Regions from separate parts of the Homo sapiens genome. Here region 1 is reported to be linked to region 2. Evidence: microRNA targets listed by miRTarBase, many of them from high-throughput screens and not tested one by one. Region 2 holds a microRNA gene; the other region holds the end of a gene's coding sequence.

Region 1 (4,063 bases), not on the chromosome of region 2:
AACAGTAACTAGCATTCTAAGGTCAGTCCTATTGGTTGTGTTGTTGCAATCTGTTTTTCCACTGGAGAAACACAGATCCTTACAACAAAACATAAAATAAACTCCACATGGTTTAAAGTTCATCATTCATGGGGAAATTTAAAAAAAAAAAAAACATAAAAATCAATACTATTATCAGTTATGGTGATAATATGTAGTAAAAACATAAAACATGGGCAAGAATCATACCAAATTAATTACAGTGTCTGCCTATTCAAAGAATGGAAGTGGGATGGTACTGGGAAAGATATTTATTATCTGTAATTTTCTGACTGTTTAATAATATATATCTCTATCTATATCAAATAGGCCAAAATGTTGACACTTATTAATTTTGGGTGGAGGTGAGAAAATGTTTGTCATATCTTTCATACTTTCCTATATTTTGATTTAATTTTGATAAATAAAATACAAAGATAATTGAAAATACCATTATAGCTAATTATTTTATTACAATGTTTTCAGAATTAGATCTAGGTGACATAAAATACACAAAAGCATAAAGCCATCTGAATAGTACAGTCAACAAGCAACAACCAGTACAATCAGCAATAATAGAGAACTTTTAACTTTGTATGTCACAGAGAATGTATATACCTTTTTAATAAAAAGCCTGAATAAACCAATAACTATTAAAGAAATCACAAAGCTGATTAAAAATCTACTATTAAAAGTGTCATCAGGATTAGATTGTTTTACACTTTGTCCTAGCTAACTTTTAACAAACAAATAATTCTAATGCTATTTAAATTATTCCAGACCACAGGAAAAAAATTGAAAACTCACATATTCATATTTTTTTAAAGCTAGCACAACTTCAATAACAAAACTTGATAAAGATAGCATCAGAAGGACAAAATACAATTTTACTTTGGAATGAAAATGCAATAATTCTAAATTAAATACTGGTAAATAAAATCCACTCATGTAGCAAATCATTATTTCACAATGACCAAGTAGTATTTGTTCCAGAAATACAAGTTTGGTTCCACATCAAATGCCTACCATTCTAATTCATTACATCAACAAATTAAAGAGAAAAAAAATCATACAATTTTATCAATAGATGCTGAAAAGGCATTTTATAAAATTCAGGAACCACTTCTAGCAATAACACTATAAAACAGGAATAGCGGAAACTCTTAAACATGTTAATGACTACCTACTAATAACCAAAAGTAAATGTCATACTAATAGGGAATACTATTCCCTATTAATATTTTGCATTCTTACTTCCATGAAAATTAAGAACAAGACAGTCACGTCTGTCATCACTCTTCAACATTGTTTTGAAAAATCCAGCTAATGTAACAGTAATCAGTATAAACATTAAGAGGAAATAAAATGATCTATATGTTCAGGTGAAATAATTTCATATCTAGAAAACCCAAAATATTATATTCTTAAAAATCTACTGTAATTTCAATGATTAAATAAGCTCATTAGACAGAAGATAAAAATACAAAAATCTATAGGTTGTCTATATTGTCAAAAATAGCTAATTACAAATGAGAAGAAAAAAACCAATTCACAATGTCAAAATATGAAATAAAACTGTAAAAATACTTAGAAATAAATTCAGTTAGCTATGATATACTTACGTGAAGAATATTCCAATAACAAGACCAAAAGATTTCAATGATGTACGAAGACTCTTGAGTGCTAAGATTTAATATTATTAAAGAGCCCTCTAAACAAAAATGCAGGATTTTAATTGTGATGTCAGCCATCATAATTAGAATTTTATTAAAATTCTGCATTTCATTTTTTCACATGAAAAAATGAATGTCTAGGACATATTATATAAAGAAAAAAAAAACTAATGAAGTGGGACTTGCTTTATCGGATTCTAAAACTTACGATGAAGCCACTATAATTAAATCATGATATTGGCTCAGAAATTTGAAAATGGGTAACATTTTAAATAAATGTCACAATCAGGTATCCAATGTGAACAAAATGTTATAGCTGGATCCCCATCTTACACCATATACAAAAATAAATTTCAGATGGATCAAACATTTAAACATTAAAAATAATAAAGTTATTAGAAGAAAATGTAGGTGAATATTTGTATGACTTTGGGTGGGGGCATCCATGTGATAAAAAAAGGAAACCAAAATCTATAAAAGAGATAAGGGTCTACCTAAAAAGTTTAAAAATTTTAAAGGAAAATATATCATCAATAAAGTCAAGATGAAAACGTCATAACACATTAGAGCTACAAATGATTAATATGCACTATGTAGTAAGAATTTCTACAAATTTATAATGAAAAACATCAATAGATACATGAGCAAAGGGTAAGAACAGGCAAATCAGAGAAAAATCCAAACAGAAACAAGGACAGCAACAACAACAAACCTCTTTGAACTCAGACAAAAGGCAATTAAACTAACAAGCAATACAATGCAATTTTTAGCCTTTCATATTTTCAAGCATTAAAGAGTGCTGGAGAGGACGCTGGAACGGGCGCTTTCATTTTGGATAGTAATCTTGTAATATTTCTGAAACATATGCCTACATAGTATTTCTGGGAATCCAACCTATATAAATAAAAGCACCAGTATGTATTACAGCAGTGTTATTTTGAAAAAAAATAAAAAAAGGAAATAAAAGACGATCAATAACGAAATGGTTGAATGCCTTTTTGGTACATCAACAAGTACTGTGTATTCAGCTGTTAGAGTAAGGGAGGGAGGGGGAGAGCAAGAGTGCAAGAGAGTAAGAGTGAGGGCCAGAGAGAGCCAGAGAGAGCAAGAAAGACTGAAGCTACTGATAAGAAGAGATATCATCTACATGTCAAGTGAGAAAAGCATGTGGCTTGCCATTTTTACAGAAACTACTAGAACATACTTTCTGCATGAAGATGGGGAAAATAGGTGGAAGGATGTACTTCGCATCCTCAACACTTGTTTTCTGGGAAGAAACAAGGTAAGGAAAGGAAGGGGTAAGGACGGGGTGTGGGTTTACACCATTAATTTTTCTTAATCTATTTTTGCATTGTTCCAATGGTTGCAAACACTTTTTAATTTTCTATTAGCACCCAATTTAACTGTTAAGTTACAGAACAAGGCAATATCAAAAGTAGCAAAGTACACTTGAGGCAAAATTGTGAAACTAGTCAAGGTAAGATTTGTTGGCACAATAAAATTTATCCACTTTCCTGAATTTCTGACACCTAAACTCTTCTCTGCGTTCACAACTACGAGAACACAAAATAATTCACATCTAACAGATCCACAACTTCTCTAAAGAGCACAAAGAATTTAAGGAGTTTTCACCAAACCATAGACATAAATGTGAATATCATCATCAAACTTAATGAAGTAAACAGATGGCTTCGCCACCACTTGATGTATAAAAATGCCAGTTCTCTTGGACCCGTCATCTTTGGCATGCTCCACCTGCTTGCCCACGAGACTGTCGACCACCTCTCCAGGCTCCTGTTCTGCTGTAGGGAAATAGTAGTTGGAATCTGGAATAATGCGTAAGTCACCATCTTTGTAGTCATCAAGCAGCGTGTACATATAGAGAACAGGATCTTTCTCGTAGGTGATGTAAAACCAAGTATCCATCACAGGAGCTCGCGCCAGGACCATACCCTTCCATTCATCCTTGGTACCATGTTCACCTTCAAACACATGCTCCACTGCCTTGCCAATCAGGGAATCTGCCAGTCGTGAATCGATACGAGGAGTTGGCACTCTCTCAGGAAGGATCTCTAGCGCTAAAACTCTCTTATCGCGGTGCAGTTCTAGTCCATACACACTATCTTTGCCATCATATTTAATGATGTAAAGAGTGGGCTTCACGGAAACCTGCTCGAGCACAGTACCCTTCCACTGCTCCACTGGCTCGTTGCCTTCCTTCCAGCCGTGTTGAATGCGGCAGCCCACGATGTTCCTACGAGTGAGGAAAGTGGGCTTGCGCCGTTGCTTCCTGTGGGTGTGCCTTTTCTTCATCAGGTATGCGGACACGCCATCTACCCCCATCGGAGGCACGGTTGGAGGAGACATAGCTC
Region 2 (4,067 bases):
TTCCAGCACTTTGGGAAGCTGAGGCGGGCGGATCACTTGAGGTCAGGAGTTCAAGACCAGCCTGGCCAACATGGCAAAACTCCACCTCTACTAAAAATACAAAAATTGGCTGGGTGTGGTGGCACATACCTGTAATCCCAGCTACTCGGAAGGCTGAGGCACAAGAATTGCTTGAACCCGGGAGGTGGAGGTTGCAGTGAGCCGAGATCACACCACTGCATTCCAGCCTGGGCGACAGAACAAGACTCTGTCTCAAAAAAAAAACAAAAACAAAACACCATGCCTGGCATATAGGAGGCACTTAATAATTATTTTTCTCATCTCTCCAGAGTACGAGATGATAGGGAGGCAAAGAGGAAGGAAGACAGAGGCAGGGATCAGGACAGGGCATAGGTAGAAGAGGTGGGGGCAGCATCTCAGCCACCCTCTCCAGGCCATGGGCCCAGGCAGCGCTCCTTGCCCCTGCCCAAGCATCTCTGAGTGGATGTCACCTGGACCGAGCTGCCCTCTCACAGCCCTCACCTGCTTGTTGGCCACCACGACGACAGGCAGGTCAGGGTCCTTGTCCAGCAGCTTGTGCAGCTCCTGTCGGGCCCAGGGCAGCCGCAGTCGGTCAGCCGAGTCCACCACAAACACCAGCACATCCACCTCGCTCACAAACTCCTTCCAGTAGAAGCGCAGGTTCTGGCTGCCCCCAACTGAGGAGAGGCCAGGGGCCAGCTCAGAGCCTCCCGGGCCCCCGCTCACTGCCCACAGCCCCCACCCCACCCCGGGCCCCCGCTCACTGCCCACAGCCCCCACCCCACCCCGGGCCCCCGCTCACTGCCCACAGCCCCCACCCCACCCTGCTTCTAGCTTAGTGAGCTTCCACCAGCCGGGGGCAAGGAAAAGACCGCAGTTTCCGCAGCTACTCAGACTGGATTTAGCTCTAGCTCTGATAGGCGGGTCTCTTGGGGCAAGTCCCTAGCTTTAAGCACCAGTCTCCTCACTGAACTTTCCTAACGGGTTGTTGCAGTAAAACCCACAGGTACCACGTGCGATGTACCTTTCACGGGACTGACACACAGGTGCTCAGTAAATGGAAGTCTTCAGTTCTCTCCCCTGGGTTGTCTGGCTTTGCCTCTTGCTAATTCCTAGCTTTCTCCTACAGGTTCAAAACTGTCAGTGATGGCTGTGACAGGAGCCAGGAGTCCTATTGTCTAGAAAACTCAGGACCCCCTGCCCTGCCTATACACAGCCATTCTCCATTCAGTTTCCCCCATCCCCTTCTTTTCCCTTGGAAATGTCATATTTCATCCTATGAACACATGGTTGCCAACACAGTCCCCCAGCCTGGATCACCTTTCTTTTCCTCTCTGCTCCTCTGCACAGTCCCATTGGTCACCCCGCACCCTAGTGTTTCTGGCTATGTTTCTGACACTTGAGGATTCTAAGCTGTGAGAGTCAGAGGCACTTACCTCTGAATCCCCACAAAGCCCTCAGCACAATGCCTGGCACATAGCAGGCACTCAACAAATATTTACTGAGTGCTTGCTAGGTGCCAAGCACTGATCTGGGTGCTGCAGATACAGAGGTGAGCAAGGCAAGCAGGGGCCCTGCACCAAGGAGCTCCCTCCCTAACTGGGAAGGACATGGCAATGACATCAACACATTTCAAAAAGGAAAGAAATAAAACAGAAAAAAGGGAAAGTGGCTGAGGTGGAACAGGGGTTGGCCCTGGATTGGGTGGTCTGGGTAGGTCTCATCAAGGAAGTGGCATGTGAGCTGAGTGGGATGATGAGAAGGAGCCAGCCATGGGAAGAGGCAGAGGAAAGCATTCCAGACAGAGGGGAGAGCATGCTGGAAGTGTCTGGGAAACAGAAAGAAGGCTGGGGTGCTGAGGCACTGCAAGAAGGAGAAAGAGATGGCTGTGAGGCTGGCTGGGGCGGGCCACATGGGGCCAAAGACCACAGTGAGGGGGTGGGGAGCCCCCCAAGGGCTTTAAGCAAGAGTGACATTACCTGACATGGGTTTTCTCTAGCTGACACTAGGGACAGAAGGGGAAGCAGGAAGACCAAAGAGGAGGCTGTGGTGCTGAGAGGAAAGATGACACTAGTTTGGGCCAGACAGGCAATAGTGGAGGAGGGTGTGCCACTGCCCACTGCCATTCCAGCCTGGGCGACAGAGACCCTGTCTCCAAAAAAAAAAAACTAGAATGGTGGGGTGCGATGGCTTACGCCTGTAATCCCAGCACTTTGGGAGGTCGAAGCGGGCAGATCACTTGAGGTCAGGAGTTCAAGACTAGCCTGACCAATGTGGTGAAACCCCCGTCTCTACTAAAAATACAAAAATTAGCCGGGCGTGGTGGCGGGCGCCTGTAATCCCAGCTGCTCAGGAGGCTGAAGCTGGAGAATCGCTTGAACCCGGGAGGAGGAGGTTGCAGTGAGCCGAGACAGCGCCATTGCACTCCAGCCTGGGTGTCACAGTGAGACTCCATCTCAAAAAAAAAAAAAAAAAAAAAAAGACTAGAAAGGTGGGTGACCTTGGATTCATGATACTACTGCTGGAACTCATTTTCCTCTGGAGATAACGAGGGTAGTGACCGATTCTAGTTTTATGTAATTGTTTAGGGGAGTTTTCTTAAGCAATGCCCGTCAAGTGCTTGGCATATGAACCCTTAGCTGTTAGTATCTCTGTGTTAGGCCTATCGACTTTGGTAGGGGTGATGGGGCAGGCGGTGCAGCTGGAGAGGCCCGATCACGAAGGGCCCTAAATGTCAGAGCACAGAGCGTGGGCTGAATCCTGTGCCCCGGAGAGCGGTGGGAAGGATTCGTAGAGGGGAATGTGCTGCTTAGACATGCATTTTGGAAGCCCCCTTCCCTGCAGAGAATCCAGGACTGGTCCAGTAGAGGAGACGGGGAGATGGGGTAGGGTGTCCGCTCACTTTCTAGCAGGTCCACCTCAAAGTCCTTGGTGGGCAGACGCACGGAGTTGAAGCCCCAGGTGGGGATGTGGCCTTCCAGCGGTGGCTTCCCCGACAACACGCGCAGGAACGTGCTCTTGCCTGCGCCATCCAGCCCCAGCACCAGCACCTCGCGCTGTTCCAGCTCCTCCAGCGCCGGCTCCTCGTCCTCCTCGTCCTCGGGCTGCGGGGAAGCGGAGGTAAGGTTGCGGCTGGCGGCCTCCCGAAGGACCTTTCCCGAGGGAAGACCGAAGGCACCAGAGGGCCCAGGCCCGCCTTCCACCCGTCCTGGGACAGGCAGGCATGGTCTGGATGAGTGGGACGAACGCCGCCTTTGCAGTCCTGAATTCCAAACCCTTGGCGAATTCCTTAAACGCTCGCGCGCCCCGCTTCCTCCACCGGTCTCGGAGTCCCGACCGCAGGCGGGAGGGGATGGGGTTTCTCCCGACATCCCCACCCCCGGGCGGGGTGCACTGCGCAGGCGCCGGAGGGGCGCGAGCCGACCCGGCTGGGCCCCGGGATGCTCCCGAGCCGCGCCCTCCAAACTCCGGCCCCCGCTGGAACACCCGAGCCTCATGGCGTGGAGCGACGGCGTGGCGCCAAGGCGCCGCACGCACCCAAGCACACCCACCCGTTCCTCGGTTCCCGGGCTCTGACCGCCCACCCGCGCGGGGCCTGTGCGCTGCGGCTGCCAAGCCCTCGACCCCCCAAGCTCCCGGCACCAGCAGGGCCGTTCCGTGGTCACACCCCTTGGCCACATGCGCGGAGTCGCAGCCCAGCCTGCCCGCCCTTCCGCAGGCCTCGGCCCGGCACTCACGTCCCACTCGTCCCACTCGGGGAGGCGGGCAGCCTCCGCGCCCCACCAGGCCTCTCCCCGGTCCCAGCGCCGCTCTCGGCCGCGGCCGAAGTAGGTCTTCCAGAGGATGAAGAGCACCGAGCCCAGCACCGCCGCGGCGCCGCCCAGCGCCAGCACCAAGGGGCCCAGCGGCCGCGGCGCCATCGGGCCGGGCGAGGGACGCAGGTGCGGGTTGCACAGGCCGAGCCCACTCGCCCGCCGAAGATGGCCCCGCTGCGACTGCTGCGGCCGCGCCCACCCACCCAGACCCAGTCCCGCACTACAAGCCCC

What was found. Region 2 holds the annotated microRNA hsa-miR-1271-5p (CUUGGCACCUAGCAAGCACUCA, at 1,524-1,545, opposite strand). A microRNA usually pairs through its seed, bases 2 to 8, with sites in the 3' UTR of a target mRNA and lowers its output. Matches are read on the target gene's strand: a 7mer-m8 pairs with bases 2 to 8, a 7mer-A1 pairs with bases 2 to 7 and ends in A, and an 8mer does both.
Region 1: miRTarBase lists SPIN4 as a target of hsa-miR-1271-5p. Seed matches in the 3' UTR shown: 7mer-m8 at 3,179-3,185.

Annotation. Positions count from the first base shown.
Region 1 is chrX:63,346,762-63,350,824 of GRCh38, forward strand. SPIN4 (spindlin family member 4) reads right to left here. Exons shown (of 1, transcript NM_001012968.3): 1 at 467-4,063. The coding sequence starts at 4,058. The coding sequence ends at 3,309. It overlaps SPIN4-AS1 (SPIN4 antisense RNA 1), which reads left to right. Exons shown (of 3, transcript NR_046739.1): 2 at 2,879-2,973. Among named protein-coding and RNA genes, the nearest start is that of SPIN4, 2.5 kb to the right of the region's middle. RefSeq lists enhancers at 3,760-3,889, 3,990-4,039.
Region 2 is chr5:176,365,438-176,369,504 of GRCh38, reverse strand. It overlaps MIR1271 (microRNA 1271), which reads right to left and starts at 1,559; the gene lies at 1,474-1,559. ARL10 (ARF like GTPase 10) reads right to left here and starts at 4,018. Exons shown (of 4, transcript NM_173664.6): 1 at 3,759-4,018; 2 at 2,924-3,125; 3 at 523-698. The coding sequence starts at 3,941. RefSeq lists a silencer at 3,764-4,067.